3 linked regions of the Homo sapiens genome follow. The protein of the gene in region 1 purifies or fractionates together with the protein of each later gene. This does not show direct contact. Each region holds a gene or a part of one and is shown on either strand. Other genes may lie near its edges.

Evidence for each region.
Region 2: the proteins of CUTC (region 1) and SLC35C1 purify together in Homo sapiens (affinity purification with mass spectrometry; one large-scale study listed by BioGRID and IntAct). This does not show direct contact.
Region 3: the proteins of CUTC (region 1) and PRRC1 fractionate together in Homo sapiens (co-fractionation; one large-scale study listed by BioGRID). This does not show direct contact.

Annotation. Positions count from the first base shown.
Region 1 is NC_000010.11:99,738,727-99,742,378, forward strand, and holds part of CUTC (copper homeostasis protein cutC homolog), read left to right. Parts: intron 1-983; coding exon 984-1,043; intron 1,044-3,652. UniProt on the Homo sapiens protein: May play a role in copper homeostasis. Can bind one Cu(1+) per subunit.
Region 2 is NC_000011.10:45,810,833-45,813,668, reverse strand, and holds the end of SLC35C1 (GDP-fucose transporter 1), read right to left. Parts: coding exon 2,334-2,836; 3' UTR 653-2,333; downstream 1-652. UniProt on the Homo sapiens protein: Antiporter specific for GDP-l-fucose and depending on the concomitant reverse transport of GMP. Involved in GDP-fucose import from the cytoplasm into the Golgi lumen.
Region 3 is NC_000005.10:127,516,186-127,520,485, reverse strand, and holds the start of PRRC1 (protein PRRC1), read right to left. Parts: upstream 2,847-4,300; 5' UTR 2,710-2,846; intron 1-2,709. UniProt on the Homo sapiens protein: May act as a regulator of the protein kinase A (PKA) activity during embryonic development.

The sequences.
Region 1 (3,652 bases):
ATTATATACTTCCTGTTGCATCACATCAGGAGGACATAACATGTTGGTTTTTTTCTGTTTTTGTGATATTAAGATTGAACAGGGAGTTCAGGTATTGCCAGCCTAATCTATCCTTAAGGTTTTCTGTCAGCTTTTCACCTAATAAATTTAGCAACCCATATTTTAGTAGGGGTTGCAAAATGGTGACATTTATTTTTCACTTATGAACTAGAATAGTTCTGTAAAGAACTTTCCCTCATCCTCTGTTTGGTTATGCTGAAGTATGGTTTGTATAAGAAAGGCAGAATAAATGCTTGCTTATTTTCCCTTATTTATTATAATACTTTTTAGAATAATGAATTTGTTCTCTGTCTTCCCTTGAATTGTTTTGTCATTATGAATGTAGATTTAGATATATTTTGTGTGTTTTAATCCATTGTAGTTATTCTGCTTATTGATGAACAAAATGTTCTATCTTTGGCTAGTGAGAGCTTCTTCAAACTGGTTCCTGAGATCTTTTGATGTGACCTTGGTAGCCTAATAATTCTTTTGGTTTCAGCATTTTCTTATTCTTGAAATTATCTTGGTTTAGCTACTCAAAAGTAGCTTTGTGTTTTTTAAAGCTTAGAATAATAAAGACCCTTTTGGGAAATATTATGTTATTTTCTTATCAACAAAGACTCAGTATTCCACTATAGTCAGTTTTAAGAAACATCTTTATTCTATGTTACTTTCCTGTACATAGAGAGGCAACCCTATAATACAAAAATTTAAGAGAACTAGCTTAACTTTAATTAATTTTTAAATTTGAGTATGAGTAACACAATGTGGGCTGCAGAGTATAGCTGAGTTAAAAACAGAGTTTTACTCTAGCTTTATAATTTGATTTCTCTGAGATGATTTCTAAGACTGTTCTATATTTGGAAAAAATATATATAAACAGGTTGCTGTTTAATAACAGCTTATTTTTTAAAAATGTGTTGAGCAATGCTTTTATATTACAGGTGCTGATCGGATTGAATTATGTTCTGGTTTATCAGAGGGGGGAACTACACCCAGCATGGGTAAGTGTCCATTTTTCCCAGGTTTTCTGATTGGAGTTCATAGAGCCTGGAAGCAACTGATAATCAGTTTCGTTGGGGTCCTTTACTAATGTCATGTTAACTATGTTATGGATGTTGTATCAGAAATGTTTATGATTGTAAAAAAATCAAAGATTTGATCAAACATATTTCTTTCTCACATCAAAAAGTTGAAAGGTAGGTAGGTAATTGTTAATACCGGTTCAGCTGCTCTGTAGTAACATCAAGGATTAGGCTTTTATAAAATCTTTCCATGCTGGCATCCTTAGTATATTGAAATCCCCTCCTGGTCTTTGTGCTATTGTTGTCATATATTTTACTCATACATATATCAAAAACTCCATGCTGTATTGTTAGTTTTGTTTGAAGAGTCAATTATCTTTTGTTAAATAAGAGATTTAAATAATAAGAAAAAAATCATATATTTACCCACATGCAACTACCATTTCTGGTGTTCTTTATTCCTTTGTGTAGATCCCGTATTTCTGTCTGGTTTCATTTTCATTCTGCCTGAAGTACTTTCTTTAACTTTTTTTGTTAAAAAGTATGCTAGTGATTCATTCCTTCAGCTTTTATATGTCTAAAATAGCTTTTTCCTTCATTTTTGAAAGGTATTTTTGCTGGGTATAGAATTCTAGGTTGACAGGTTTTTTTTTTCTTTGAAGATGTTTTTCCATTGTCGTCTTGCTTGTATTGTTTCTGACAAAAAGCTATCATCCATATCTTTGTTTTTCTCTATGTAATATGTCTCTTTTTTCTACCTACTTTTAAGATTTTTTTATTATTGGTTTTGAACAATTTTCTTATGGTGTACCTGAGTATAGTTTTTTCATGTTTCTTGGACCTGTGCATTTATACTTCTCATCACATTTGGAAAATTTTCAGCTTGCAGCTTGTTCTCCACTCCCTCCTTTAGAGACTTAAGCTATTCTTACATTAGACTACTTGAAATTGTCCCAAAAGTCACTGATGAACTTCTCTATTTAAAAGAAAATCTCCTTTCTGTGTTTTCATTTTGCATAGTTGCTATTGTTTTGTCCTTGAGCTTACTGACCTTTTCTTCTGCACTATCTAATCTGCTATTAGTCTCTCCTGGTATGTTTTCATCTCATACATTGTAGTCTTCATCTGTAGAAATTTGAGTCTTTTTATGTCTCTGATGTCTCTTAACTTTTTTGAACATGTGGAATAAAGTTATGATAGCTGTTATAATGACCTTGTCTGCGAATTCTAACATCTATATCAGTTCTGGGTTTGTTTCATTTGATTTATCATCTAATAATATATCTTATTTTCCTGCCTTGTAATTTTTTATTGGATGCAAGACATTGTGAATTTTACTTTATTGGTTACTAGACATTTTTGAATTCCTACAAATGTTCCAAAACAGTTTGGTCCTTTTGGGTCTTGCTTTTAAGATTTGCTGGGCAAGTCTGGAGCAGTGGTTAATACAGAGCTAATTATTCCTTACTACTGAGTCAGGATTCTTCTGTGAACTCTACCCTGTGACCATGAATTTTGAAATTTTCCTGTCTGGCTGGTGGAATAGGCATTATTCACAGCTTGGTATGAATGACAGGCACATTATTTCTAATCCTTTTTATTGGTTCTGTCCCAGGCCTTGCGTAGTTTCTTTGCATGCATGCACCGGTCAGTACTCAGCTGAATATTAAAGGAGGTTCTCTGCAGACCTCCAGAGTTATCTGTCTTCCTTTCTTCTTTCATTCCTTCCTTTCCTTTCTTTTCTTTCCTTCTCCTTTTCTCTCTCTTTGCTTTCCTTCCTTCCTTTTTTTCTTTTGACAGGGTCTCACCTGTTGTCCAGGCTTGACTGAAGTGGTGTGACCATAGCTCCCTACAGCCTCAAACTCCTGGGCTCAAGCAATTGTCCTGCCTCAGCCTCTCAAGTAGCTAGGATTACAGGCATATGCCACCATGTCCAGCTACATTTGTTTGTTTGTTTGTTTGGTAGAGATGGAGTCTCACCATTTTACCCAGACTGGTCTTGAACTCCTTGCCTCAGGCAATCCACCCATCTCAGCCTCCCAAAGCACTGGGATTACAGGCATGAGCCACCGTACCAAGCCTATCTTTTTTAAAAAAAATCCTTTTTTTAAACCATTGAGATAGTCTTTGCTACTCCAGTGTTATCTTTCTGTCCTCCCTGTACTGTCTCCTATAAACTCTAGCTACTTCAGTCTTCCTGAACTCTAAGCTTTGTCTCCTTAACTCAGGGAATTGTTTTGGCTCCATGTGGGTCCCCCATCCCTGTGCTTTGGCCTAGAAACTCTCAAGGCAGTAAATTGGGTCAATCAGAATTGACTTACTAACTTCATTGTTTACCATTTTCAAGGATCATTGCCCTTCACTGCTTAATGTCCAGTGTCTTGCAAACCACTGTTTCATATATTTTGTCTGTTTTTTTATTATTATTATTATTATAGGTGGGAGGGTAAATCCAGTCACTGTTACCCTGTCTTGGCCAAAAGCAGAAGTCTGTGTATGAATTGTGGTCTCCTAAGTTATGCTACTCTGAGGTTGATAATAGCATTATTTAATGTAAAAAGTTTGTATACACAACAGCCCTTTGGAAT
Region 2 (2,836 bases), on another chromosome or scaffold:
GTTGCAGTGGGCCAAGACCGCGCCATTGCACTCCAGCCCTGAGTGACACAGCAAGACTCTGTTAAAAAAAAAAAACAAAAAACAGTGCTGGGTATTGGACTCAGAATGCTGGGGTAGAGTTAAGTACCAAGCTCTGAAGGCACAGAACTCTGAATCCTCCTCCTGCCTCTTCCTTCCTGGGGCCCTCTCTGAGCCTCAGTGTCCTCATGTGTAAAAAAAACAGATCAGTGACGGCTCCCACCTAAGGGGCCACGGGGAGTTGTGAAGATGAACTTCACAACTTCTCAACTTCACAAGGGTGGATGTACAACACTCAGCACAGCCTATGGCCCCCAACAAGCATCCAGTAAATGGCAATTACGACTAATAGGAAACTTCAAGTCTGGTCACCTACCTTCCAGGAAGGAGCCTGGTATCCTTAGAAAGAACCAGCTCCTAGAAAGGCTGCCTGCTGGTGGGTGGGCTTGGTGAAGGCAGGGATGAGCCCTCCTTCCTGACAGATCCCCAGCTCCCCTCCACCCCAGGGCCCTGTTCACAAACCTTCTTCAGCCCTGCTGCCTCTGACAGGTCCCAACCTCCCCTCCACCCCCAGGCCCTGTTCACAAATCCTCTCCAGCCCTGCTGCCTCTTCCCTCAGGCCACACACACAGGATCTTATGGATTCTTTATTGAATCACAAACAACTCAGGGCATCAGGCCCCAGCAGCTGCATTAGAACCCATCTGGGATTGTGAGGGGACTGGAGAGGGAGGGGGGAGAAGACCCGCTCTCCCTAGCTTTTCACTATATAGAGTAAAAACATCAGAAATCACCCCAAGAGAAAGGACATACCAAATGCCCACCAGAAGGGCCAGGGACTGCAAGCCACCCTGAGCGCAGGAGGGTGTGGTGAAGGGTGGTATGGCCCCGAAATTTGTGTGTGTCCCCCACTCCCCCTGCAAATTCACATTGGAATTCTCACCCCCAAGGTGACAGTATTAGGAGGTGGGGCCTTTGGAGCTGATTGGGTCATGGGGGCGGAACCCTCATGAACAGGGTTGGAGTCCTTATAAAAGAGGCAGGAAGGAGCTTGCTTGTTTGTGCTTCTACCATTGAGGATACAGCGAGAAGGCACCATCTATGGATCGGGAAACAGCCCTCAGCGGAGTCCGAATCTGCTGGCCTCTTGATCTTGGGCGTCCCAGCCCCCCAGGACTGTGAGCAATACGTTTCTGTTGTTTGTAAGCCACCCGGCCTACGGCATTTTGATATAGGAGCTCGCTGGACTAACAGTGGGGCCAAGCAGGCTCTGTCAGCCACAACCTCAGGGAAGAATGTAAAGGTTGGTGTCTTACCATCACAAGGCAAGCGGCTCAGAACCAGCTGTAACACCTCCCTTGCAGAGATCTAGGGGCGCCAGACACAGCTGGGGTGGAAGGCTCCTAGTCTGGACCCTTGCTCCATCAGCCCCACCTGGGGAGGAAGGCTTCTGGGGAGGTAGAACTGGGAGAAGAGAGAAGCAGCTCCTTGGCTCTGCTTTCAGAAGGCTGTTACCTGGGCCAGGTGCTGGGAGACCAGAGGGACAGGTGCCACTCAGGGCCAGAGGAGCCACGCAGGACAATGTGATGTTAGGGACTGGGGGAGGATGTTAATGACCCTGCTTAACCTCTAAGAGAAGCATGGTTCCCTTGTGTTCAAAAGCTGGACATACAGGGTGTATAGATGGTGAGCACTTTCTCACAATCCACCCCATTCCCAGGCCACTGCCCAGCAGCCCCTGGGGATCTGCTGGTGTCAGAGGGAACTCGCTCATTTCCTCCCTCAGTCCAGGCCACACTTTCCTCCAAAGGAAGGCCGGTCTGTGGGCCCAGGGTGAGGCTGCCTGCCCACCGCAGACGGAAGGCTTCCCAACCCTCTCCAGGTGGCTGTGGTAGGGCCATCTCCCCTGAGTACAGTGAAGCCTTTGTGGCTTTGCCATTGCTGTCCCTTCAAGGTTGTTGCCTGTCCCTGTCCTCAGAGTGATGTGGAGGCAGACAGGCCCTGGAGGCAGAAGGAAGGGGTTCAACTCTCACTAGGGTGCTCCCTCGGGAAGGACAAAAACTCAGAAATACGAGAGGATAGAGAAGGGTTTGGCAACTTTCTGGTATTACTTGTAAACACTGGTTCCTTCAACTTTCTGATATTACTTGTAAACACTGGTTCCTTCTCAACCACCGTATTCTGATTGGGTCTATAAGTAGCACCCAGTCCACACCACAGCACGCTTCTGGGGTCCAGGAGACCGCCTTCACTACTGTGCTGGCCCCGCCTGTGTACGGGCCCCGGGGCCGGGCCATCCAGGGTGCCTGTGGTGCTCACACCCCCATGGCGCTCTTCTCGCTGTCTTTGGGGCTGGGCTCCTCCGGAGTCTTCTTCATCTCCCAGCCCCTGACCCAGGTGTAGGCGGAGGAGCCGCCCAGCACCATCATGTTGCTCGTCCACCAGAGGAAGCTCTTGGTCTCCTCGTAGTAGAGCACGGCCAGCACTGTCTGGGCACAGGCCTTGGCCGTGCCCGACACATTGTGGGTCAGCGGACTGGTGAACTTGATCTGCAGTCCTGTCACGTAGCCGATGGCAAAGCCAAACAGGCCGCCCAGCGTCATCATCCCCCAGAAGTGGGCACTGCCCAGCTGGGCAAAGTCACGCAGGGCCTGAAGCTCCCCGAGCAGCAGGAGCAGGGGCAGGAAGAGGATGCAGGCGTTGACGTTGTTGTAGAAAGTCAGGCGCCAGATGCTGCCGTCCACCGCCGGGAGCACCTTCGTGGTGTAGATGGCGTTGAGCGAGACACAGAGGCTAGCCAGCACGCCGAAGACGGTGC
Region 3 (4,300 bases), on another chromosome or scaffold:
TTTTTATTGCTGAATAGTATTCCATTGTATAAATGTACCTGCTGAAGGACATTTAGGCTGATTCCAGTTATTAGCAATTCATATTTATTTTTTGAAAAGATCTGAACAAAGTATGCAGCCTGGGCCACTGGGCAGACAGAGCAGATGCAGACAGGCCATTAAGGAAGATATAGAAGTAGTTCCATCAGAAGTAAGTAACAACCTAGACTAATGATTTTCATAGTGGGAAGGGCTGATTATGCCCCCAAGGGGTCACTTGGCAATGTCCAAGACATTTTTTATTGTCACTACTAGAGGGCTACTACTGGCATATAGCATGAAGAGGTTAGGAATACTACTAAAAATCCTCCAATGCACAGCCTACACACAAGAATTAAGTGGCCCCAAATTTCAATAGTGCCAAAGTTGAAAAACTCTGACCTAGACTCAAGTGATGATAGTGGAGATGGAGAAAAGTAAATAAGTTCAAGACAAGATTAGGTGGCAAAATTCAGTGACTGGGTATGGAGGAAGGGAAAGGAGGCATGACTTGCACAACTAGATAGATGGTGGTGCCATGCACAAAGATAGGAAACACTGCAGAAGGCCAATGTGTTTGATGTTCTTTCTGGGGGAGTCGGATGGGGGAAATCATAAAATGTTTAGTCTTTGACATGCTGTTTAAGTTCCTTGAAACAAACATCTAAGTAGAGACACTGACTTGGTCTGGAGCTTAGCAACCACATAAATGTGGGTGTCATCAGTGTACTGATAGTCTAACGTCATGTTTTGAGATGAGATTACGTAAGAGAATACCAAGAGAAAAGAGAATATGATGTTAAACCAATTATTGGTTTAGTAAGATGGAAGACAAGTTTGCAGAGAATAAGAGATGAGCTAAAAGAAAGGAAGAAAACCAGGAGACTGTGGTGTCCAAAAGCCAGAGTTTCGCAGTATGAATGGGCAACAGTATTAATGCTGCAGAGAAGCCAAATAGGATACTATCTGAGAAGTTCAATGGATCTGCCAAACTGGAGATGAATTTAGGGAGAACGGTTTTCATATAAAGAGTGGAGAAAGATTCCAGTGTAAACTGAATCGAGCAGTGGCAGGTGAGACTAACACGCATGACACTTTCAAAAAGTTTGGCTGTGAACGTAGGAAAGATCTATGGCACTAAGCAGAGAACAGGGATCCGGGGAGGCTGAATCCTTTCATTCAGTACCTATACATCGAAGGTAAATAACCTGAGATAGAAATGCCCCTTTGGAGATTTTACCACTCCTCAACCAAAGCTCCCTCTTTTCTTCATTTAATTTTTTATTGGTCATTCACCCTCTACTACAGATGCTCCCCAATCCTTACAATGACTAGTAGAAGTCCTATTGTAAGAGAATCCCTAACATTAACAAATGTGTCTGCAAAAGAAACTGTACAATGAATACAAAGTCATTAAGTGGAATAAATAATCAATTTCTTTGTCTTTAATGGCTTTTTATATGAAAACTGCCGTAATGGCAATACTGAGGTAAATTTTACATGCATAAACATAGTGCCTTCTACTAAAAAAACCTATTATGATAAAACAATACTGAAGTGTCAGAGTTGGTAACTGTTTTAGGGCTCAAGTCTTGTCACGAAAAGTACTATTCATATATCAACACTAAAGAAAAAGTGAAGAAAATGGTTTGGAAAACTGAGTTCTCAGTCCGGCTAGACCCTGTTGTTCCAATTTGCTTGTGCCTTGGTTTTTCTGTTAAAAAAAAAAAAAAAAAGTGGATGTCTATTTACAAGTTTACAAGAAATGGAAGAGTGAAGCTCTGATAAACTTTAAAGCATTAAGAGCAATTATTGCTGACCTACTCGTGCCACAAGATTGTCTCTACTACCAAACAGTGAGCGCTAGTTAGAGCCTAATCTGACCCCGAAATAAAATTTTATAAATTTTCACTGAATTAAACACTGGCTGCACAGGAGAAAGACTGAATGCCAAGATGTGTCACGATCGCAGAAATGCACATGTTGTCTCTCAAAATAACTACTTCGAATGACAAAAACACTATTGGCTATAAATTCTGTCAATCTAGGAAACGTGCTATCTGCAAATTTGCCTGAAGCAGGTCCCAAGACCAAACAAAGAAACGAGAGAATGCAAAAACTCTCCCAAGCGGCGCTAAGCACCGATGGGGTAACCTCAGGGAAAATAAGCTTCCTTTCATTGCAGGTCCTGGTGTGATGACTCTCGAGCCTCCTGGGCCTCTCCAGGGCCAGAGCGGCCGAAATCCTGTTTCAGGAGACAGCGGCTTCCCCTCAGGCTCTGCCACGTCTCCAGGCCAGACAGGGCCGGGCTAAGGTCCGCCGGCGCTCCCGCCAGTCTCCCCTAAAGTCAGCGCCCTGGAAGGTGGGGCCAGAGCGCTCCTGCCTTGGTCCTTGGACAGGAGCAAAGTGTCGCGGGGCGAGACCCTCGAACCGCGCCCACCGTGCCATCCCCAGCGGAAACTGCTCACCTTGCGATGTGCACTCCTGCCTGCTGCACCCCGCACGCCGCCACAGCTGAGCCTGGACCACGGGACTAGGGGGCTCGCAAACGACATCGGCGTCCAGTGGCGCCGGCCGGCCCGCCCACCTTCCAGGGACACCGTCCCTCGGGGTCTGGCTCTGGCGCCTGCAAGCCATGCCATGCCATGCCACCCCCCTCATACACGCCCCTCGGAGCCACCTGGCGCTCACCTGGGGACCGGGAAAGTGCCTGCGTGGTCGCTGAAGAGTGTGGTATGATAGGGAGGTCGGGACGTAGAACTACAGCTTGGAGAAGACAACGAAGGCGCACCCTGGAAGTTACCTCGGCGTGTCCCCGCCTACAAGATGGCCACGGGCGGCGCATGCTCCTGCGGCTGCCACGTCGGCCGCGCGCCGCACCGCGCCGCGCGTCGCCGCCCCGCCCCGCTCCGCCCCGCATCGCATCGCCCCGCTCCGCCTCCGCATCGCCCCGCCCCCCCTGTCCCATGCGCTGTGAACCCGGCCGGGACGCTGCAAGTTAAACTTTGGAGCCAAGATCTTCCTAACTACCGAGACTTGGTTCTGCCCACACCCTCTAGAAACATCTTCCAAAGGGCTGGCCTCCTTTCTACTTCGCAGCCCCCTTACACGAGAGTGGCACTCTTGTTACCAGGCGTAGCTCACTCATCCTGTGCCACAGCGGCCCAAGGGATAAGATCAGTTAGCCAAGGTCATCTGGTTGGCGGTCATCTAGCCAACATCAGCTAGTCCAGTCAGCACCTCCAGGAAGGACCTCGCGGCAGATACAGGGGACTTAGCCTGTATAGTCAAAGATTTCCAGATAACAGTGATTATATCAGGAGAGAGGGATTAGGAGAAGAGGGAGAGGGGAGAAGAGTAGCAGTTACTGTACTGAATTTTTCCCCAAGTGCATGTATTGCACATTCTTTTTTTAATTGTAAAATAGACAGATTATCAACTTTCTTATTATATGCTGCACCTAACACAGTACCTGAAATAGTTGGTGTTCAATAATGTACATTAAATAAATTAATGGAGTGCGATAGAGGAAAATAAGGAACTTCAAATCAGAAGTCTTGATTTGAGTCTGAGACTACTCTAATGCCAGTTGTACAGTTGCCTGCCCTTGTACAGGTCACTTAGTCTCCATAAGTCTTCATATTTCTACCTGCAAACTGAGAATAATACTATCCACCATCCCTAAATCAGGCAGGTGACAGACTCAAATAAAATAGAGCATATGAAAATTTTTTAAACTTTTTGTCTTTTTGAGATGGTGTCTTGCCCTGTTGCCCAGGCTGGAGTGCAATGGCGCCATCTCGGCTCACTGCAACCTCTGCCTCCCGGGTTCAAACGATTCTCCTGCCTCAGCCTCCCGAGTAGCTGGGATTACAGGCACAGGCCACCACACCCAGCTAATTTTTGTACTTTTAGTAGAGACAGGGTTTCACCATTTTGGCCAGGCTGGTCTCGAACTCCTGACCTCGGCCCGCCTCGGCCTCCTAAAGTGCTGGGATTACAGGCGTGAGCCACCGCACCTGTCCGAAAACATTTTTTAAATTGCTTAGCATTAAATATATAAAAAATTGTTTTTGTTGTTCTCAATTTTTTTTCAGGAACTCACTTAGAGATTTCACATTAATCTATCTCTTGAGCTTCACAGTTGTAAGCATTCCAAAATACCTCACTGAAAAGTTAATACTATGTAGCAATACTCTGACTTCAGATCTCACTGTGCAACTACCATGGGCGGTTTTCTTTGGCGGTGGCTCCTATCCTCTAAGAATGTGTGTAGGTGGAG